Linked DNA regions of Homo sapiens: all the other regions are linked to region 1. Evidence: fine-mapped expression QTL. A gene starts in region 1. Each other region holds a variant in brackets. All regions are shown on one strand. Distances are from middle to middle.

Region 1 (5,610 bases):
AGAAGGGGTCCATTCAGTTGGTTGGGGGGCTTAGAATTTTATTTTTGGTTTCCAGCTTCTTGGTCTCTGGTGGCATTTATTACAGTGACATCTCACTCCTGCAGACCTCACCACCTCAACGTCACAGCCAAAAACTAGAAAGTAAACAAGAAAGCCTATAAATGGCCAAAAAAATGGGCATGAACTCTGAGGACTAAAGCTCAGGTTCTGTTTACCAGAAAGCTCCTCAACCATTCCCTTAGGGCTTTTTCACTTTAAATATTCAGAACCTTTCTAGGAGCTCAGTTTATTACTGGAAAGGGGTCTTGATCCATCCAGACCCCAAGTGAGGATTCTTTGATCTTTCAAAAGAAAGAATTCAGGACGGGTCCACAGAGTAAAGTGAAAGTGAATTTATTAAGAAAGTAAAGGAATAAAAGAATGGCTACTCCATAGAGCAGCCCCAAGGGCTGCTGGTAAGCTATTTTTATGGTTATTTCTTGATTATATGCTAAACAAGGGGTGGATTATTCATAGGTTTTCTGGGAAAGGAGCATGATTTCCTGGAACTGAAGGCTCCTCTCCCTTTTATACCATATAGACGTTGCCATAGCATTTGTAAACTGTCAGGACGCTGGCAGGAGTGTCTTTTAGCATGCTAATGAATTACAACTAGCATATAATAAGCAGTGAGGATGACCAGCTGTCACTTTCTTTTTTTTTTTTTTTGAGACGGAGTCTCACTCTGTCGCCCAGGCTGGAGTGCGGAGGTGCGATCTCGGCTCACTGCAAGCTCTGCCTCCCAAGTTCACGCCATTCTCCTGCCTCAGCCTCCCGAGTAGTTGGGGCTACAGGGGCCCGCCACCACGCCCGGCTAATTTTTTGTATTTTTAGTACAGACGGGGTTTCACCGTGTTAGCCAGGATGGTCTGGATCTCCTGACCTCGTGATTCGCCCGCCTCGGCCTCCCAAAGTGCTGGGACTACAGGCGTGAGCCACCGCGCCTGGCCTACTTTCTTTACCATCTTGGTTTCTGGCAGATTTGGCCGGCTTCTTTACTGCACCGTTTTATTAGAGGGATGTTTGAGATCTGTATCTTGTGCGGACCTGCTGTCTCCTCCTGTTGTTACCAGAAAGGGGTCCGGATCCAGACCCCAAGAGAGGGTTCTTGGCCCTTGCATAGGAAATAATTCAGGGCAAGTCCATAAAGTGAAAGCAAGTTTATTAAGAAAGAAAAGGGATAAAGAATGCCTACTCCAGAGGCAGAGCAGCCCGGAGGGCTGCTGGTTGGCCATTTTTATGGTTATTTCTTGATTATATGCTAAACAAGGGATGAATTATTCATGAGTTTTCCGGGAAAGGGGTAGGCAACTCCCTGGAACTAAGAATTCCTCCCCTTTTTAGACCATGTAGGGTAATTTCCTGATGTTGCCATGGTATTTGTAAACCGTGGTGATGCTGTCTGGAGTGTCTTTTAGCATGCTAATACATTATAATTAGCGTATAATGAGGACTGAGGACCTCCAGAGGTCAGTTTCATCGCCATCTTGGTTTCGGTAGGTTTTGGCTGGCTTCTTTACCGCATGCTGTTTTACCACCAGGGTCTTTGTGACCTGTATCTTGTGCCAACCTCCTATCTCATCCTGTGACTTAGAATGCCTAACCTCCTAGGAATACAGCCCAGGTCTCAACCTTATTTTACCCAGCCTCTATTCCAGATGGAGTCGTTCTGGTTTGAAGCCTCTGACAAGTTCACTGGTGGCCCGGGCAACATTTAGAAACAACAGAGACAACACTCCTAACAAGTTGGTTTAAGCATTTTACAAATACTGCTTTTAGTTCAGAGGGGGCTACTTACAAACACCCCCTCTAAATCCCCTAAGGGCACACGGTAGAAAACGCCTTCATAATTATCCTCGTAACACCGTAACTGCGAGGACCAACATCCTCCTTTCACAGATAAGCGAAGAGAGGTGAAAAGAGGGCAAATATACTCAAGGCAGCCGCCTCTAAACCGAAACTTGGGTTCTGAGGTCAGTTAAACTTGGGTTGCATTTGAACCTAAGCCTGCCTGCGTGAAAAGCCCGTTGCTTTCTTTGCACCTCAGCTGCCTCAGGTTCTTGAAGAGGCGATGGAGGATGTACTTCTAAGAGAACCTCAATATACCTACAATATAAGTGTTTAGGTGCTCCCTTAACTTGGAAAAAACCCACAACTGAGGAACCTCGGCCAATGCGGCGCCTGCATATTGAGTGCGCCCAAGAAAACGAATTTCCTCCCGTAGAGCGTCGGTTAGCGGCCACGTTAGGCAGCACAACCGTTCTGGAGACTGGGTGCTCGGCGGCCCAGCAGAGGGAGCGGGGCGGGGCGCGAGTTCCATACTCGTGGGTCCGTTTCTTCCCTCCTGGCCAGCCGCGCTCTGCTCCCATCTGCCTACGGGAAAGAGAGTCTCCGCGCACGCGAGCACGCGCACTCGCAGCCTCAACCCTCGGCTCCGCCACCGGGATGCAGTCTTCTGGGAACGGTTCTCCCCCAGCCCCCACCGGCTGACTTCCGGCCGGCAGCTCCTCAGCCCCTCCCCCTGAGGATTCACCAATCACGGTGCGCGTGTGGCTTGAGTAGGTGGGGCCTGAGAGATTCGAAAGGAGCCCCGCCCCCTCGGAGCTGATTCCCGGGACTAGGTTGCGGGAGAAAGCCTGTTGCGTGGAAGATAAGGCGGCGCGGGAAGTGGACACAGGGTGGGCTGGAGGTGTGCTTCGCGTGTGATGCCAGGGGAGTGGAAAGGTGGCTTGGGGAGTGCAGAACCCTGAGGATAGTGGCGGGGAGGAAGATGGGGCGTGCAGGCCGCCCCCAGTGAGGAGAGGCCAGGATGCAGGGCGGCTCCAGGGCAATCTGGGCAGTTGGGGGAGCCCTCCGTATCGTTCCCGGAGGTAGCAGGAGTAGCTGTGCGGGAGGTGCCACTCCTGGGCGCTTGCTTTGCCTCCAGCATGACCCCCGACCCTGGCTTGCACCCTGAATCTAGCTGCGAGCCTTGGGCAGAATGGATACCTGAGGAAAGGTATGGTTTCTCTCCAGCTCAGATCTAACTGGACTCTCGCTCCTGCTGGCTGGACATGGAGGATTTGGAGGAAGGTAAGGAAAGGAGGGAGGGAAGAATGAAAGGGAGGAGTGAGACCCAGCGATGGAGAGCTGCATCAGGGACCCATGACTGGCTTTCATTCTTCTTTCCCCTTCAGATGTAAGGTTTATTGTGGATGAGACCTTGGACTTTGGGGGGCTGTCACCATCTGACAGGTACCAGCCTCTTTATCCCACTTATTTTCCTCTAACAGTACCTCTTTGTCTCGAATCCCTTACTGCTGAATTATTGGCTTGGGTTGGTAACTTAGCAAGGTTTGGCGCACTTGGGGCTGCTGGGCGGCTGGCTGACTCGGGCCTCTATGACACTATTGGTAGCGGGGAGAGAAGGGAGAAGCTGGAGTTAGATTTCAGGGTGTTAAGAAGAAGGATAAGTGGATTTGCTGCATCTCCATCCTGGCATCATTTCTGATGTCCGTAAATGCTAAAGGCCTATTAGGCCCCATAGAACCAGGTATCTCATCGCCCAGAGGCCACATCTCACAGCCAGCATGGGCATCGGGGCCTAGGGTCATGTCCCTGGCTCTGTTGTGGGGCTTTTATGCAGTCTCCCTTGCATAATCTCCTGTTCCCTTTTGCATGGGCATGATGCCTGGTTTGTTTCCTGTCTCAGCCGTGAGGAGGAAGACATAACAGTGTTGGTGACTCCAGAGAAACCACTTCGACGGGGCCTCTCCCACCGAAGTGACCCAAATGCAGTGGCACCTGCCCCCCAGGGTGTGAGGCTCAGCCTAGGCCCCCTCAGTCCAGAGAAGCTGGAGGAGATCCTCGATGAGGCCAACCGGCTGGCCGCTCAGCTGGAGCAGTGTGCCCTGCAGGATCGGGAGAGCGCAGGCGAGGGCCTGGGGCCTCGCCGAGTGAAGCCCAGTCCTCGGCGGGAGACCTTTGTGCTGAAGGATAGTCCTGTCCGAGACCTGCTGCCCACTGTGAACTCTTTGACGCGGAGCACCCCCTCCCCAAGCAGCCTGACGCCTCGACTCCGGAGTAATGATAGGAAGGGGTCAGTCAGGGCTCTCCGGGCTACATCTGGAAAGAGGCCCTCCAACATGAAGAGGGTGAGTTGAGAGAGTTGAGTTGGAGGTGTGCCCCAGACATGGTGTGTGCCATGATGCAGGGAGTGGTTTCCTTATTGGTAAAACAGGGATAGCATTTCTACATCTAGAATTGTTGGAATTAAATGAGAACCATGAAAAAAGAGAACCAAAACTCTTACCACAGTGTCTGAGTATATGTCTATGATAAACTCAATAAATGGTATTGGCAATAGTGATGGTGATGGTGATGTGGTGATGTTAGCAGCTAACTTCTACCCTTCCTTACTGGGATGTAGACAACTCTCCACCTCTATTTCTTAATTCCTTAAGCCACAGAACAGATATTTTTTCCACTCTAGTCTTTTTTCTCTCTCTCTTTGTGTTTCAGGAGTCACCCACTTGCAATCTGTTCCCTGCATCCAAAAGCCCAGCATCTTCTCCTCTTACCCGATCGACTCCCCCAGTCCGGGGGAGAGCCGGGCCCAGTGGGAGAGCAGCAGCCAGTGAGGAGACCAGAGCAGCCAAGTTGCGGGTGAGTGGGAGTGGGGAGTTTGTGGGATTGACCCTGAAATTTCTCCACCCCTCTCCACCAGGCCCACCCACCCCCATCAGATCCGTCCTGGCCCCACAGCCTTCTACCAGCAACTCTCAACGCCTGCCCCGGCCGCAGGGAGCAGCTGCTAAATCTTCCAGTCAACTGCCCATTCCCTCGGCCATCCCCAGGCCTGCCAGCCGAATGCCACTCACCAGCCGGAGTGTGCCACCTGGCAGAGGTGCCCTACCTCCGGATTCTCTGTCAACTCGAAAAGGGCTTCCAAGACCAAGCACTGCAGGACACAGAGTGCGGGAAAGTGGACACAAGGGTAAGAGGTCAGGAGGAAGAATGCCCGCCCTTGCCCAGCGTGTCCTCACCCTCCCAGAGCTGTCAACAGTGACCACTTTTGCCATCCTTATTGCAATTCAATTGGAAGATGGGGAGACTGAGTTACAGAGAGGATATGGGGCTGGACAGAGTCTGAGTCTTAGTTTTCAAATACCTCATGGTCAGGGGGAGAGTACTAATCCCACACTCGCTCCCTTCATCCAGTATTTCTTTTCGAGGTCAGTTAAACTTGCTGCTAACTCATTTCTTTTGTTAACCCCCATGAAGTTCCTGTTTCCCAGCGACTAAATCTTCCTGTCATGGGTGCCACTCGCAGCAATCTGCAGCCCCCCAGGAAAGTGGCAGTCCCAGGACCTACCAGGTCAGTCTGGTCCTCCCTTGCCCATCCTGTCTCCCTACCCCGCCATCATCTGGGATTCCAAGCTGTTATGCACATCAGCCCTGAATTTTGTATGGAAAGATGGAGAGAGGAGGGGAGCCTGGGGCAGGGGAAGGGGGATCCCATTTCTTCCCACCCTGAGGAGCTTGAATTCTGCTGGGTGACAAATGGGCTTGAGGAAGAAGGGCATTTTAAAG
Region 2 (5,610 bases), 31 kb before region 1:
TCCAAGGCAGGCAGATCACTGAGGTCAGGAGTTCAAGACCAGGCTGTCCAACATGGTGAAACCCTGTCTCTGCTAAAAATACAAAAATTAAAATTACAAAAATTAGCTGGGTGTGGTGGTTTACGCCTGTAGTCCCAGTTACTCGGGAGGCTGAGGTAGGAGAATCATGTGAACCTGGGAGGTGGAGGTTGCAGTGAGCCGAGATCGTGCTGCTACACTCCAACCTGGGCAACAGAGCAAGACTCCGTACCAAAAAAAAAAGGTTGTCTGTGAAGGGCCATGACCTGGAATTGTGCATGTGTGGAAGAGAAGAGCACTGGGCAATAGGTAGGGTGGATCTCTGACCAAGTCATGTTAAGTATGTTCAAAGTGAAAAATTGAGCTATGGTAATGGGCTGGTTTTGATTTAAATGAAGCAAGTTACCTGTCGGGCATGGTGGCTTACTCCTGTATAGTCCCAGCACTTTGGGAGGCTGAGGTGGGGAGATCAGTTGAGGCTATGAATTGGAGAGCAGCCTGGGCAACATGGAGAAACTCCATCTTTACAAAAAAAATACAAAAATTAGCCGGATGTGGTGGTGTGTGCCTGTAGTCCCAGCTACTCAGGAGGCTGAAGGGAGAGAATCACCTGAGCCTGGGAGGTCAAGGCTGCAGTGAGCCATGATCATATCACTGCACTCCAGCCTGGGTGACAGAGTGAGATCCTGTCTCAATTTAAAAAAAAAAAAAAAAAAAAAAGGTTATGAGGCTGCATCCAAATCTGTAGCACTGAACTACCTGTGGAACTGGAGATGTGTAAAGAGGAAACCTCTTGATAATGAAACACTAGACCAGCAGCATGACTTCAGATGCTCAACAGCAGGCCCGTTTCCCAATTCGTAATAGGAGAGGTCAAGCTGGATCACCTGCAGTCCCTCCTCTCTGCTGTTCTAAGGGATGAGGGACTGACAAGGGGTGGGATTAAGGAGATGATGGGAGAGGAGTGTGTGAGTGTGTGTATTGGTAAGGGGGCGAGTTCCTCCTTCTGTGCACCCTTGTCCTGGGCTCCTGGTGACTCTCCTCAGAGTGTTCGTGTGTGTGATTGCACAGGACTCCCACCCACAGGGACACAGCTTGTCCTAGAATCCAGCTCTGCCTCCTCTGGGATACATTGAAAACACACACTCCCTATTTCCCACCCAGAAGCAGGTAGGTCACATGCAAACAGTGATATGATAAGGCTTATTTATAATAATATATAAAAAATTAAGTAAACAAATAAATCTTGGTGTCATATAATGGCCTGCCTGGTTCTTCTGACACAGCTTCTTCCCAGATAATGGCCCTGTTCTAGAGTCATTCAGCCTACTGTTACAGTAGTCTCCCTTTCCTACTCCACCCTTAAGCCCCAAGACTTGTGAACAGTGGTAGTGTGAAGCAATCATACTTGATCTAGGCAGTTGCCCAGGCTTCCAGTGTAACTTTGACATTTAAACCACAGAATTTGAAGGTTCAAGGCAGTTGGAGCTAAGATGACTCTCTGCCAGCTATAATATTCTCCTGGTAACACTGAGATGGTTCATCTTGGGGGGTTGGAAAAGAGCCATCATTAAGCGCATCAGGACTGCAGATCATTCACAAAGAGATGAGGGGAATGAGTGGCTGCCTTGACCTCAGTCCTAGGATATGCATGCCTAAAACTTTTGTGTTTGTGTTTTAATTTCTCAAGAATTCCAAGTCAAATTCTGTTCCAATTATCCTGGCCATCGTGGGATTGATGCTGGTCACAGTCGTAGCAGGAGTGCTCATTGTGAAGAAATATGTCTGTGGGGGAAGGTAAGGAACACAGAAGTCAATCCAAGGTACTGAGTTCAAGCCAGAAGGCTGATCTAGGGCATATGGCTGAGTCTACTCTTGGCAAAAACTAGGTACTTGCAGTACTGTTCCTGAAAAATCAGGCCCAAATCTTCTCATGTCGTACATTTTTCATATGTCAACCATGGACTGTGCTTTCTGTGTCTGTGATGCGTTCCTGAGTGTATAAAACTGAGAAAGTCCACAGTCCTGTAAGAAGTGCACCCCTGCTGTGTACCACCGAGTGTTAAGGAGGTTTCTGTTCACAGGTTCCTGGTGCATCGATACTCTGTGCTGCAGCAGCATGCAGAGGCCAATGGTGTGGATGGTGTGGATGCTTTGGACACAGCCTCCCACACTAATAAAAGTGGTTATCATGATGACTCAGATGAGGTGAGGCTATTTCTTCTTGAATGGTAGTACCCCCCCCCCCAAAAAATACAAGAAAATAAAGTCTGTCTTCTATTCATGATCAAGATATGCCAGGGCCAAGGCGACTTAATGACCATAAGATTTGGCAAGCCCAGAAACTAGGTGATTGCTTTTGAAATAGGAGTGTTGTGGTCTGTCGGTAATATGGTGCATGTCTTTTTCAGGACCTCTTGGAATAGCTCTTCAGAGGAGCTGGACCCAGCATGGATGGTGGAACCACAGTACCTCTTACACTCCCTGTGGCTCCAACTTCAGGAAATAAATTTCCCATTGCGAGGGACCCAGCTCTGTTTCTGCTGCTTCCATCAAAGCCAAAAGGACCTACACTAAAGAAATGCAGGGTGGGGGTGGGGAACCCTGAGCACTTTTTTACAATTGGCTCTGAGAAAAAGGGAGACATTTTAAATTCTTTAACTTCTTATTTCTCGTCCTGTCTCTTTGCAAAGTATGGGCTTTTTTGTTTTTGTTTTTTAAGGGAAACGAAATGGAATTCGAAGGGACCTTTTCACTAACCCCACTTCTGTGTGTTCTGCATGG[C/T]GCCTGCCCCAGGGCATCTGCCAACTCCAGTATCAGCTCTCACAGTGTACTTGGTACCATCCCTGGGCTCTGCTGGCGAGACGAAACAGCTGTAGAGATGAAAACAGGCTGCAGAGGCTGGCACAGCCTGGCCGGCTTTTCTCCATCTGGGGACAGTCCTACTCCAAGAACACTGCACACCAGCTCCTCACACAGATCCCACTTACTCTTTTTTTTTTTTTCAGAGACCACAGACCACAGTGATTTTTCTTTTCCCTTGTTTAATTAGGCAATACCCTTGTTAATTGCCCTTTGGCAACTAACTTAACCATGTGCTTCCCACACAGTACATCAGGAAAACTTACAGGGCAATATTTTTAACTTGGGGCAGGAAGAAGGGAGCAGCAGAGAATTGACTAGATATAGCACCTATTAAAAGAGAACTCTTGCTTCTTCTGAGATTTTTCAAGCTGTGCTTTGTGTGTGTGCCAGTAGACTTACGCAAGGACAGGGTACAAACTTAGCTGGAAGTCTGCCCAGGCTGAATGATCTCTTCCCTAGAGTTGATTGTCGGGTACACAGTGTGAACCCCCGAAGACGGAACCTCACAGTCTTCCATGTTCCCTTCTTAACTGTCGTGTGGCTCGTTGCTAAATCATGACAATGGCTGCCTATCTGCTGCTTCTTAGGTTGCTGTTGTACATGGAACCAGGACTAGAGATTTTTTCAGATTTATAGACTTAAAAAATTAGAATTTTATTACCAGGCTTTCCTTCTCACCCCTTTTTTCTGACTTTGCCAAGTAATTTGTTGACACGAAAATTTTGGAGGAACCAATTGAAAACACACTTCCAGTCTAGATGATGCTTTGTGTGATACATTAAGTTCTTATTTTGGATTAAAAGAAGTTTTCCATTTGATACCTCTCTAAATTAAATAAATTATAGAATGTAGTTGGGTGGATTTTGGGGTGGCCATATAGTAATGGAAAGCTGCAATAATTAGTTTTAATACAGCTTGAATATTTGCTATATAGAAATATAGTATGGAAAGTTTTTGGTCTTAATGTAGCTACTGTGCGGGTCACAGTTTCTCCCAATGATTATGACTGGGACATTCTTTGGTAGATACCATTTGCTACTAGTTTATTTTGTGGCTAGAAAGTCAGTTTTGTGTGTTTTTTTTTTTTTTTATTTGAAGTGCCAAATTAACTTTAGTCAGAATGTGAGCAGATGGCTAAGTTCTCTCCTCCCCAGAATGGATTAACAGCTGCGTGGAAAGTGGGGGAGAGAGTGGATGGAGACTTTTAGAGATGTTAAAACTGCAGTAGAATGAAATGAGTCAGGGAGCTTCAGTTAGAAAATAAAGTTGAGGCAGTTTTTGTGAAGATAATATGGTTAGGGCTGGAGTGCACTAGTCTTTTTGCTTATTCATTTTGCATGGTTTTAAAATTAAAAATAATTCCGAAGATACACCAGCTCACAAATGAAAACGTCAGCCTCTGCCCCACCCTCCCTCCTGCCCAAAGTGAATTTGGTACTCAGAAAAGAACTGTTTATACCACTCACCTTTCTCCCAGCATGTACTCACTGTGGGCAGATGCACCAATACATGGTAATCCTCTTACTCATTTTAAGACGTAGGAAACTCAATATTCTTCTCTAACCATATACGATAGGGCTCTTCGCTTTTAATGATATCTGGGATTTCTGTGGAACTTGGCAAATTTTCAGAGCACCTTCACTCACATAATGTCATTTGAACCTCACAATGTTCTTGGGATGGAGTCAGTTGTTCAGGGTCCCCGTGTGTGTGATAAGCAGTGCTGGCTGGCTGTCTTCAGAACTCTTGGAAATCTTTACACATGCGAGTGCTAACCACTTTGAGCAAGGCTGCCTTCTTGTAGATGACTTGCTGTTCTTTATGACAGGGATCAGTGGCATTTGTTTCCTAGCAGTATTTAGCACCTTTTTGCCACCTTGGTGAACAGAAAATTGTATTTTCCTGTCTTTCATGGCTGAAAACAAAAGTAATGGGAATTTTAAATACGTTTGCAGAAACTGCCCCTCCCCTCATTGAGGGTCACTGCTCAAGAGTGCAGGAGTGGACTCTCCACTGATGGGTCTCCCTCCCCATCCTGGTTTCCACCCCGGGCTGGCTAGCTCTGTTGGTTTGAAGACTGACAGCCAGCCTGGCTCATTCTCATTATTGGCTAGTTAGCTTTCTTTATCAACCTGCTCACTCACAAATGTGTGCCCTCAGCCAGAGAGTAAGAAAGCCCAAATCTGTTACAGCTTCTAAAAAAATAGATTTCTAATTTGTCCTACTCATGTTAGGAGCATTATCTTTGAAGGTAAAACATAGTGTATCATTGTGTAAACTCCCAGGCTTGATGTAGCAGAAGAGATCATTTCTGGAGGCTTCAGCAATGGAATTTAGCATTATAAGAGAGATTGGACAAACCAGTCCAAAGTGGTCCGAGTTCTTAAATCCAGGTAGGGAACTCACTCTTCTTTCTTCTCTGGACCTAATTGGGCATTGGGCTTTAGTGAGACCACAGACCAGGCCCGTCTCTCCTGTAGGCTTTTAATTCAATGGCAACTCTATTTCAAAGAATAAAAGCCTTTGGAGAGTTGCGGCAGTTCTGGGGGCGGGCTCAGGAGAGTCCATAGATCAGCCGTAACTGGAACGTAGAATCTACGTCTGCCTCTGAATGGACTTCCCACCTCCTCTCTCTTGCTCTGATGCTTGCCTCTGGGCCTCTCCATGCCCAAGGTGGTCTTTCATCCTTGACAGGCTGGTAATGTGCTGGCCACCTCCAGCTCCTGC
Region 3 (5,610 bases), 200 kb after region 1:
TTTATTTTGCGCCGTGGCGGCTGCTGTGTGTAAGCAGCAGCCTACCTATGAGGTTTTCATCGTCCTGGGCTTCCACTTGAGAGAACTCCAGCACCGCGGGTGAAGAAGCCGCACCTGCGGCCTCCGTGACTGCCCTTGAGCTGCTCTTCCTTACTCCGGATGGAAATCTAGTCAGACTGCGTCTGAACGTTGCAAATGAAATGAGGAACCTTGTAACAAAAACAAGTCGCGGCCGGGCGCGGTGGTTCACGCCTGTAATCCCAGCACTTTGGGAGGCCGAGCCAGGCGGATCACCTGAGGTCGGAGTTCGAGACCAGCCTGACCAACAAGGAGAAACCCCGTCTCTACTAAACATACAAAATTAGCCGGGCGCGGTGGCTCATGCCTGTAATCTAAGCACTTTAGGAGGCCGAGGCAGGCGGATCACCTGAGATCGTAGTTCGAGACCAGCCTGACCAACATGGAGAAACCCCGTCTCTACTACAAATACAAAATTAGCCGGGCATGGTGGCTCATGCCTGTAATGTAATCCCAGCTACTCGGGAGGCCGAGGCAGGAGAATCGCTTGAACCTGGGAGGCGGAGGTTGCGGTGAGCCGAGATCGCGCCATTGCACTCCAGCCTGGGCAACAAGAGCGGAAACTCCGTCTCAAAAACAACAACAACAACAACAACAACAACAAAAACCAAGTCGCATCTTTCAGATCCTAAAGCACCACGTCGTCGGAAAACATTCAAAGGGTTGCCCGTTTGCTTGTGTGAATTTTTCTTTTCCTTAAACTATCAGGAGAATCTCGATTCTCCTGCATTTAATTAATGCTGGGATCACTTCAGCCACTTTAACCAGAAATCGGCGATATCTAGACACCGCTTCTCTGAGGACACTTTGACAACGTGACAAAAGACATTGCCAGTCTAATGATGGGGGTGGGGTGGAGGAGACAAAAGTACAGATTCAGATTTGCATACTGAAATCCTTAATTGCACACAACTCGGCCCGCTTTATTAGAGTTCGGGCGGAAGTGCGACACCGAGTCCTCCAAGGCTAACTGGAGGGTTAAATTATACGGTTACTAATCCGCCGTGCTTGTCAAGGGCCTAAAGGGACTCTGCCCCTTTCTGCTGCAGTGCCATCTGCTGGCTGCAGCCTGCTTGGTTACCCAGAGGGAAAACTGCCAAAGCATCCTCTGGAAGCTGGCCTGGAAAGACAAGCCAAAGTCTAGTGCAGGACAGATGCCTTGAGAAAATATACATACATGCAGAAAGAAAAAAAAAAAAAGACGGCGTATATACGGGACAAAACCTAGGACAAGGCCAGGCAGCCACTCAGATTATATATATGTTTGCACATTCACACACAGACAAATTCCCCTGCCCAAAAGAACTGTTCAGGACCACTCAAAAACAAAACAGAACAAAAGCTCTATTGTTTAGGCCTTCGAATCCTTCATCAACCATTGTCTAAAACAGCAGCAGCTGGCCGGGCGCGGCTCACGCCTGTAATCCCAGCACTTTGGGAGGCCGAGGCAGGCGGATTACCTGAGGTCAGGAGTTCAAGACCACCCTGACCACATGGTGAAACCCCGTCTCTACTTAAAAAAAAAAAAAGAAAAAAGAAAAAAAGAAATACAGAAATTAGCCTGGCATGGTGGCGTGCGCCTGTAATCCCAGCTACTCGGAAGGCAGAGGCAGGAGAATAGCTTGAACCCGGGAGGGAGAGGTTGCAGTGAGCCGAGACAGCACCACTGCCCTCCAGCCTGGGCGACAGAGCGAGACTCCATTTCAAATAATAATAATAATAATAATAACTGCCCCCCTTTGGCCGGGCGCGGTTGCTCACGCCTGTAATTCCAGCACTTTGGGAGGCCGAGGTGGGCGGATCACCTGAGGTCGGGAGTTCGAGACCAGCCTGACCAACATGGAGAAACCCCGTCTCTACTAAAAATACAAAAGTAGCCGGGCATGGTGGCACATGCCTGTAATCCCAGCTACTTGGGAGGCTGAGGCAGGAGAATCGCTTGAACTGGGGAGGCAGAGGTTGCGGTGAGCTGAGATCCTGCCATAGCACGCTAGCCTGGGCAACAGTGAAACTACGTCTCAAAAAAAACAAAGAAAAGAAAAAAAATTGCCCCTCTTGTAATCCTACAGCCATCACCTTAGTAATTTTGCTATATCGGTAGTCTTTAAGTATCAATTATGTCCTCACAACAATGAAAACTTACATTTTTATAACATTTTGACATTTTCAAAGCAAACACACCTTGTCATATGATCTTATTTAACCCTCACAACTGCCTGATTACCCCTGTTTTAGAAATAAACCAAGGTTTAGGGTAAGGACTGCCAAGTATTACACTGGCACAATAATTCCAGCCTTCTGAAATCAGGACTAGAAAATTTTCCTCCATACCACACTGGTGTTTCCTTTGACAGCAACCACTACCTACTGAATAATGCCTAAGTCCTTAGCCTGCTACTCAAGGCCTTCCAATAGTATTTTCCACTGTTCCCTATATGGGCTTTAAGCTTTGTCTATAAAGACTATGTTCTTCAGTTACAGTCTTTGCTTTCTCATTTTTGCTCATGCCACTCACTTTTTAGAGATAATTTTTTCTCCCCATTTTTTTTTAACTAGATGAAAACCTCTTCAGTTTTTGTCATACTCTGAAAGACAAGTCTTTCCTCTTCTGTCATTCTCAGAGGTTAGAATAAAAGTTAATCAGCTGGGCGCAGGGGCTCACGCCTGTAATCTCAACACTTTGGGAGGCCGAGGCGGGAGGATCACCTGAGGTCGGGAGTTCGAGACCAGCCTGGCCAGCATGGTGAAACCCCGTGTCTACTAAAAATTCAAAAAAATTAGCCGGGAGTGGTGGCAGGTGCCTGTAATCCCAGCTACTCAGGAAGCTGAGGCGAAAGAATCACTTGAACCTGGGAGACGGATATTGCAGTGAGCCGAGATTGTGCCATTGCACTCCAGCCTGGGCAACAGAGTGAGACTCCACCACAAAAAAAAAAAAAAAAAAAAAAAAAAAAAAAAGTTAAGCCCGGGCGCAATGACTCACGCCTGTAATCCCAGCACTTTGGGAGGCCAAGGTGGGCAGATCACCTGAGGTCAGGAGTTCAAGACCAGCCTGGCCAACATGGTGAAACCTTGTCTAAAAACACAAAACTAAAAACACAAAAATTAGCCGGGCATGGGGGCGTGAGCCTCCAATCCCAGCTACTCAGGTGGCTAAGGCAGGAGGGAGAATCGCTTCAGACTGGGAGGCGAAGGTTGCAGTGAGCCGAGATTGTGCCACTGTACTCCAGCCTGGACAACAGAGTGAGACTCCCTCTCAAAAAAAAAAAAAAAA[AG/G]AATAAAATGTAAAGGCTGGGCATGGTGGCTCACACCTGTAATCCCAGCACTTTGGGAGACCGAGACAGGTGGATCACTTGGGGTCAGGAGTTGGAGACCAGCCTGGCAACATCGTGAAACCCTGTCTTTACTAAAAATACAACAATTAGCTGGGTGTGGTGGTGTCTGTCTGTAATCCCAGCTACTCGGGATGCTGAGGCAGGATAATCACTTGAACCGGGGAGGCAGAGGTTGCATTAAGCTGAGATCACGCCACTGCACTCCAGCCTGGGAGACAGAGCAAGACTGTGTCTCATAAACAGAAAAAAAAAATTAAGGATGAAATCAAAGCTGAAAAACCAGGAGGAGTGATGAATTGGCAAATTACAATTTTTTTTTTTTGAGACAAAGTCTCACTCTGTTGCCCAAGCTGGAGTGCAGTGGTGCAATCACTGCTCACTGCAACCTCTGCTTCCTGGGTTCAAGCAATTCTTCTGCCTCTCCTCCGGAGTAGCTGGAACTACAGGCATGCGCCATCGTGTCCGGCTAAGTTTTGTATTTTTAGTAGAGATGGGGTTTCACTACGTTGGCCAGGCTGGTCTTGAACTCCTGACCTCGTGATCCGCCCGCCTCGGCCTTCCAAAGTGCTGGGATTACAGGCGTGAGCCACCACACCCAGTGGCAAATTCCAATTTTTATTTTATTTTATTTTAGCTTTGAGACAGAGTCTCGCTCTGTCGCCCAGGCTGGAGTACAGTGGCGCCATCTCGGCCCACTGCAAGCTCCGCCTCCCAGGTTCCCGCCATTCTCCTGCCTCAGCCTCCGAAGTAGCTGGGACTACAGGCGCCCGCCACCACGCCCGGCTAATTTTTTGTATTTTTAGTAGAGACGGGGTTTCACCGTGTTGACCAGGATGGTCTTGATCTCCTGACCTCATGATCCACCTGCCTCGGGCTCCAAAGTGCTGGGATTACAGGCATGAGCCACCGTGCCCGGCCTCAAATTACTATTTCTAAAGGGCAGTGATAATGCACACAGTATCTTATGATTAAACAGTTTTCTTTTAACTCCACTCAAAATTTACTTTTTCTTCATTTTCCACGTCTGTCTCTATTCTTCCTACTTTTTTTCTCCCACTCTTAAATTTATTTCTTCTTTCTCCCTCCACCATATTTTTTCTTTTTCATATTGTAAAAGATATTTTACATTTTTTTAATTGAATAGAGTGAGTCTCACCAGGCTATTTCAAAATTAGTTGTATCAAGACTTTTATATTCTAAAATCAAAAAGTTGACCAGGTGCGGTGGCTCATGCCTGTAATCCCAGCACTTTGGGAGGCCGAGGCAGGCAGATCACGTCAAGAGATTGAGATCATCCTGGCCAACATGGTGAAACCCCGTCTCTACTAAAAATACAAAAATTAACTGGGCGTGGTGGCACGCACCTGTAGTCCCAGCTACTCGGGAGGCTGAGGCAGGGGAATCGCTTGAACACGGGAGGAGGAGGTTGCAGTGAGTTGAGGTCGCGCCACTGCACTCCAGCCTGGTGACAGAGTGAGACCCCGTCTCAAAAAAAAAAAAAGTTCAGTTTTCTGTGAAATTAAGTTAGTTCCTTTCTAAGGTTGTTGGAGGATTAAGTGAATTACTATTTACAACAATATCTGACATGAGTAAGTATTCCATAAATGATAGCTATTATTGTTGTTCATTTTGAGGGAAGAGAGAGACCCTCTCATATTGTTCTATACTCAGAAAAGGAAAGAGAAGAGAAACTAAAGGCAGGTAGCCCAGTGCCTAGGAACCACACCTGAAACCAGGCCTAGGCCTGCCTGACCTAAGCCTGGTAGTTAAAATTCGACCCGTGACTTAGCAACTGATGTTATCTATAGATTCCATATATTGTATGGAAAGACATTGTGAAACCTCCAGTTCTGTTCTGTTTCGCTCTGACCACTGGTGCTTGCAGCCCCTGTCATGTACCCCCTAGCTTGCTCAATCGATCATGACCCTCTCATGTGGATCCCCTTAGAGTTGTGAGCCCTTAAAAGCACAAGTTGAGCACCTGAAGAGCTCGGCTCTTGAGACAGGAGGCTTGCCGATGCTCCCAGCCGAACAAACCCCTTCCTTCTTTAACTCGGTGTCTGAGGAGTTTTGTCTGAGGCTCCTCCTGCTACAATTTGTTTTAAAAGTATCTGTGGTTGGCCTGGTGGCTCACGCCTGTAGCCCCAGCACTTTGGGCACTGAGGTGGGCGGATCGCTTGAGCTCAAGAGTTCAAGA
Region 4 (5,610 bases), 87 kb before region 1:
CCCAAAGTACTGGGGTTACAGGTGTGAGCCACCGCGCCCGGCCCATTCTGTGTTTTTGTTTTGTTTTGTTTTGTTTTTTATTAGCTGTTTCCGGTAGAAAGGTAAATGTGATCCCTGTCACTCCATCTTGACCAGAAGCAGAAGTCCACCCAGAAATGAACTTTTACATTTCATACTCATGTCTGTCATGGGGAAGTTAAGTGGGCCTGGCCTTATCCTTTTACTTGGGCGTCATCTTTTTCAAAACTTCATAAGTAGTTCTTAAAGAATTCAATATTTATTGCGTGCCCACTGTGCACTATGCTGTGTGTTAGCTGCTGAAATGTATGGGCTTGATTCCTTTACCAGATGGACCTCAGGTCTAGTGGGGAGGACAGGCAAGGTTCTTGTGGCTACAATTAAAAGTGCTGTAATACATATTTTGAAAGATCTAAGATGCCACTGCAGTGTAGAATGACATGTACGTTGTCTTAAATATTAGAAATGATTCTGGATTAGGATTGATGGCTTTGTGCTGACTTGTGAATTCTGTCTCCTAACCATGACCAGGTTGTCTGCCCTTTCCTGGACATCCGTATTTTTTTCTCCCATTGAAGTGGCAGGATTGAATCTGTACTCTTGGGTCCCTAGCTCTCCTGGATTTATCTCCTTTCCATATGACCTTTTCTTTCTGCTTAACCTTTGGGCCTGCTGTAACATCTCATTTCATTTTTCTTTTTTAACTTTCACCAGTATAAGAATGTTAGAGACTGAAATATTAAAAAATTAATTACATTTGCTATAGGTAGATGAGTTTTTCAGTGAGTTTGCCCATTTTCAAAAGCAAATCTTCATTGGTTATTTGGAGTGGGTGGGAGGGACAGCTTAAGGGCAGTAGAAAACCACAGTTTTGCTAGTAAATCTGGCCTACATTTCCAAAGGAACTCTTTGGATGATGAGTGAGGTCCATTACCATTTCAGTTGTTTCAGTGAAGCTGAGAGTTGCCGGTGACACGTGATAATCCTCCTCATTCTGTAGTTGAGCAATAGGAAAATGTGGGTAATGCCAGTCTGCATTGACTGGGTCGGCTGTGTAGAGCATTGCCTGAAAAGTAAAAGTTGCAGTCCTGATTGGCTCAAGACTGATATCTTACAGCCTGATGAAGACAACCACGAATTCCAGTGCCATAACTGATGGACTTTTTCTTTTCTCTTAGTTATGACAAGGACCTTCCTTGGAAAGATAACCTGTGTTTAGATGACTGTGATCTTAGCCCTTGTGATCTGCCTGGTGCTTGTGGTAGCTCTGGATGTTCCTGTTTTTCCTGAAGGACCTCATTGATGTCATTTCAGACACTATCCTCACTCAAGAGAATGTGAGGTTTTGCTATGTGTGAAATATCATATAAGACACACTGCTATGTCAGTTTTTAAGCCTCTGGTTTCAGAAGCTCTGGCAGCCCTACTTTTTCTCAGATGCCTGGCAAGCCTGCATGTCTGAATAGCCCTTCTTTCCTGCAGAGGCTGTGAGAAGCTCTGCCGAGCATTTGAGAGTTAACCATTATTTACGGAGCAAGACCTGCGTGAGGCACTGATTGTACTAACTTACAAAAATTGTGTAAGAGATTCTTTTGACATCAAAGGTACTTACGGTCCAGAGGGGAAATCACATACGTGAATTCGGAAGCCCATTCAAGACTGCAAGAGAAAATTCGAAGATAAACAAAACAGTTCATGTTTTGAGTTCTGTTTCTTTAGATTTCTATGTGGGATTGGTGGCTTGAGTGACCAAGTAGCTGGCATCCCAACCATTTATAGACATGTTCTATTTTGAGGTTGAGTTTGTGGTTTGGGGAGGATGTGTAATCATTTTCAACAAATGCTTACTGAGTGTGCAAAGTATTCCTGTGGAAGGCACAGGGAGTACCAAGAAGTATAAAGTTACATTCCCCAGCTTCCAAGGAGCTTCTCATATCTGGGAGGGCAAGGCATGTTTAAGATTTTAAAATCTTAGTAAGATTATAAGTCTTAAGAAAAAAGCATAATCATCCACATTTATTAGAAATATATACTGAACTATTAAACTGTCTAAGAAATGGGGCTTGGGTGGTGAGCATGTGGCCTGGAAAAGAGAAGGATCTTCACTCTTTGCTATATAGACTCTATATAGTATGTAATTTCTATATGGTTTGAAATTTTTGCCAAGTGCAGTTATTACCTCTTTGGAATTTTTATTTTTTTTATCAGTTACAAAAATTATAGAGAACAGACGATTGTATTAATACATATAATATTAACCTTGAATATCTCTATGTGGTAGGATTATGAGTGACTTATCTTTATTATGCGTTCTTATAATTGTCTACATCTTCTTTAATGAATATATATTATTGTATAAGTAGAGAAAGGAAGTATTTGAAAAACAAAACCCAAAACCACCTACAATGATTATTATAACTATATTTTAACATGCTTACTATATTTTGGATATAATATACCAGCTTTCCCTTTTTTACCTCCTTACTCTCACTGCAACTCTAGTAAGGTTGTTTTATTATTATCATTATTACTATTGTTATTAAATAAAAAGGTGAAACAAAGGCATTTGCTTCTTGCTTCTGCCCGTTGTCATTTTTGAGTGAGCTAGACTAGAAGTAAAAGGAATCCAGTTACGAACTTTTCAGCTATACTGTAAAGGATGCCCAGAAAAATTTAAATTATGTTGATTTGGTTACAATTACGCCTGCCAGTGTGGGCTATGATCTTTTGTTTTAAAGCATCCTAAAAATACTTTGCTATACCTTTATATTTAGTTCTGTTGGAGAAAGCAATTAGATTGTCCCATCTCCCATCTCCCCATCTGGTGCAGTAAAGAAAACTCATCTGCTTGGCTTACTTTGTGTTAGAGAGAATTTAAATTTCCAAGTTATTTGTGATTCACATTAAGTAGTTAAATCCCATCCCTCCCAAATTTTGTACTGGGAATCCATACCCACTTTGTAATTATGAACTTAATTACTCTGAACAGTAATAAAGTTCAGATATTTAAAGAAGCCAAAGATTGAAGGAGAGTGGCTGTCATTTCTAAATTAATTTTTTTTCCCCTTATAGCATGTGTTTGATGATCTCAGAGGCTCAGTATCCTTGTCCTGGGTTGGAGATAGCACTGGGGTAAGTCATATTTTGAGTCTGTTATTTCAGCCCAGCAAGAAGATGATAACAGATTTGGGGAAGGGTTAAGCACCTAATATCATTTCTTCCTGAAACTGTC[T/C]TTAGCCTCAATCACAGAAAACACATGTTTGCAAGACAGACTTTCAGGAAGTTGTAGTTGTGTTGGTTTTGCTTTAGAATTGGGAACATCTTTTTTGCGGGGGGGTGGGGACGGAGTTTCGCTCTTGTTGCCCAAGTTGGAGTGCGATGGCATGATCTCAGCTCACTGCAACCTCCACCTCCCGGGTTCAAGCGATTCTCCTGCCTCAGCCTCCCAAGGAGCTGGGATTACAGGCACCCACCACCATGCACAGCTGATTTTTTGTATTTTTAGTGAAGATGAGGTTTCACCATGTTGGCCAGGCTGGTCTTGAACGCCTGACCTCAGGTGATCCACGCGCCTCAGCCTCCCAAAAGTGCTGGGATTACAGGCATGAGCCACTGCGCCTGGCCGGGAACATCTTCTGACCACCTTCTTCCACGGTGGGAAGATGGACACCTTTTCAGTCCTTGGTGGCTGCTTAGCATCAAGATGAGCAAGAAGAAAGATGAAAGTGCTCTGTACTGAGAAGGGAAGCGCACAATGCTTGGGGAAACCCCTATATAGAAACAGAAAATGTCCATTAAAAACATCCTGGCACTTTTCCTCCAAATTGTATTGTTCCTGTGTCCTTTCCTACAGGTGTGTTGAGGGACTGTGGTGCCCATGGGCTCATGGTTGTTCATCTGTTGGTCCCTGCCCCTGCCACAAAGGAGGTACTGCCAGGATTGGGGGAATGGAAGGAGGATCAGTCAGCTCCTTATCCCTCCTGATATACAGCTGGGCTCCCACTAGGAGGACACGCTGAGGATACATTGGCCCCTGGTCTTAAATCAGGACTTGTTGCCTGGCTGTCTTATTATCCTGCTTGAACAAGAGCAGGGGCAACATCTCCTGCCCCCTGGTATTCCATAATGCATGTGTCATAGCATTGAGGCACATGATAGTTATATTAGAAGCCTAAAGAAATAAAATCTTGGTGCTGAAAAGCAAATTGTAAATTTCTTATTTTGATTAATTTTTAAACTTTCAGTAGAATTTCTTTAAGCATAGTTCAGTTTTTTCTAAAATTTGAGTTGTACCCTAATTTCCATGATTTACCCATTTATCTTAGATAGTTGGTATCTCCAAGAATTTTTTTTTTTTTTTTTTTTTTTGAGACAGAGTCTTGCTCTGTCACCCAGGCTGGAGAGCAGTGGTGCAATCTTGGCTCACAGCAACGTCCACCTCCCAGGTTCAAGCAATTCTCATGCCTCAGCCTCCCAAGAAGCTGGGACTACAGGCAAGCACCACCACGCCCGGCTAATTTTTGTATTTTAAGTAGAGATGGGGTTTCACCATGTTAGCCAGGCTAGTCTCGAACTTCTGACCTCAAGTGATCCGTCCGCCTCAGCCTCCCAAAGTGCTGTGATTACAGGCGTGAGCCACCGTGCCCAGCCATCTCCAAGATTTCTCATATGGCTTTCTGAGACTCCCTAGACTCTTATAGTAATCCATCCAGAATCATTTCCTCATGCATAGTTTTTGGTAGATAAGGTACTGAAAAAATGAATTTCATGAAGAACCAACGGCAAGGAGAAGAAAAAGACAGACATACATGACACAGTGATCTCTGTGAGAACACCCACGCTATTCTAGACTCTGTAAGGAGAAAAGGGAAGAGGGTTCTTGCCTGAGAGTATCTTACAATAATTTGGATACAAAATAGTTAAAGCCTTCTTTTATTTTAATGTGTATTTGAGTAGTCAGCCTCACTGCTTCAATGGAGGCAATGGGGATCATCCCAACAAAATGAGCTGAGGACTTTCTCATCATTCTCAGCCCTAGTAACTAGATCCTTCTAGACTTTGGGGAGTACTACAAAGTAGGGATATCAAAAGTCTTTTAGGTGTTGGCTTAATCTCGAACACATATCAGCATGTGATTGGAATATCTTTTTTATTTACGGAATGCTTTTTTCTCTCTCCAGGTCATTCTAGTCTTGACTACCTTCCATGTACCACTGGTAATTATGACTTTTGGACAGTCCAAGCTATATCGAAGGTGAGATCAATAACACGCGTTGGAGCATTTCACTAAGTAACATTGAGAATATAGATTCTCCCTTTTCTAGACATGATGGCACGTAACAGTTGATGTAAAAGATCTTCTAGCCATCCTAAGTTTTCACCAGACTGTCACACTCAGCACATGTTTTTGTTGTTGTTGTTGTTGTTGTTTTTTGAGACAGGGTCTCACTCTTGTCACCCAGGCTGGAGTGCAGTGGCGTCATCTTGGCTCACTGCAGCCTCCACCTCCCAGGCTCAAGCCATCCTCCCACTTCAGCCTCCCAGGTAGCTGGGACTGCAGGCACACGCTACCATGCCCAGCTAATTTTTTGT

Alleles and levels. Positions count from the first base shown, and alleles are read on the strand shown. Sizes are in standard deviations (SD) of each study's normalised expression. Not every link is listed here.
As copies of AG replace G in region 3, the expression in naive CD8 T cells of the gene that starts at base 2,646 in region 1 goes down (large effect, 1.2 SD a copy in Schmiedel 2018).

Evidence for each region.
Region 2: its variant is fine-mapped to the expression of PSRC1 in spinal cord (GTEx, PIP 0.98).
Region 3: its variant is fine-mapped to the expression of PSRC1 in naive CD8 T cells (Schmiedel 2018, PIP 0.95).
Region 4: its variant is fine-mapped to the expression of PSRC1 in whole blood (TOPMed, PIP 0.92).

Annotation. Positions count from the first base shown.
Region 1 is chr1:109,280,181-109,285,790 of GRCh38, reverse strand. PSRC1 (proline and serine rich coiled-coil 1) reads left to right here and starts at 2,646. Exons shown (of 8, transcript NM_001032291.3): 1 at 2,646-2,728; 2 at 3,055-3,111; 3 at 3,216-3,273; 4 at 3,731-4,172; 5 at 4,540-4,654; 6 at 4,745-5,014; 7 at 5,302-5,395. The coding sequence starts at 3,093. RefSeq lists enhancers at 2,135-2,184, 1,552-2,277.
Region 2 is chr1:109,310,877-109,316,486 of GRCh38, reverse strand. SORT1 (sortilin 1) reads left to right here. Exons shown (of 20, transcript NM_002959.7): 18 at 1,709-1,815; 19 at 2,103-2,226; 20 at 2,430-5,610. The coding sequence ends at 2,444. Among named protein-coding and RNA genes, the nearest start is that of MYBPHL, 6.7 kb to the right of the region's middle. The variant C/T (reference allele first, on the strand shown) is at 2,803.
Region 3 is chr1:109,084,918-109,090,527 of GRCh38, reverse strand. No RefSeq gene overlaps it. Among named protein-coding and RNA genes, the nearest start is that of TMEM167B-DT, 3.0 kb to the right of the region's middle. RefSeq lists an enhancer at 1-130. The variant AG/G (reference allele first, on the strand shown) is at 3,353.
Region 4 is chr1:109,367,070-109,372,679 of GRCh38, reverse strand. It overlaps SORT1 (sortilin 1), which reads left to right. Exons shown (of 20, transcript NM_002959.7): 2 at 3,091-3,150; 3 at 5,199-5,272. Among named protein-coding and RNA genes, the nearest start is that of SORT1, 28 kb to the left of the region's middle. The variant T/C (reference allele first, on the strand shown) is at 3,251.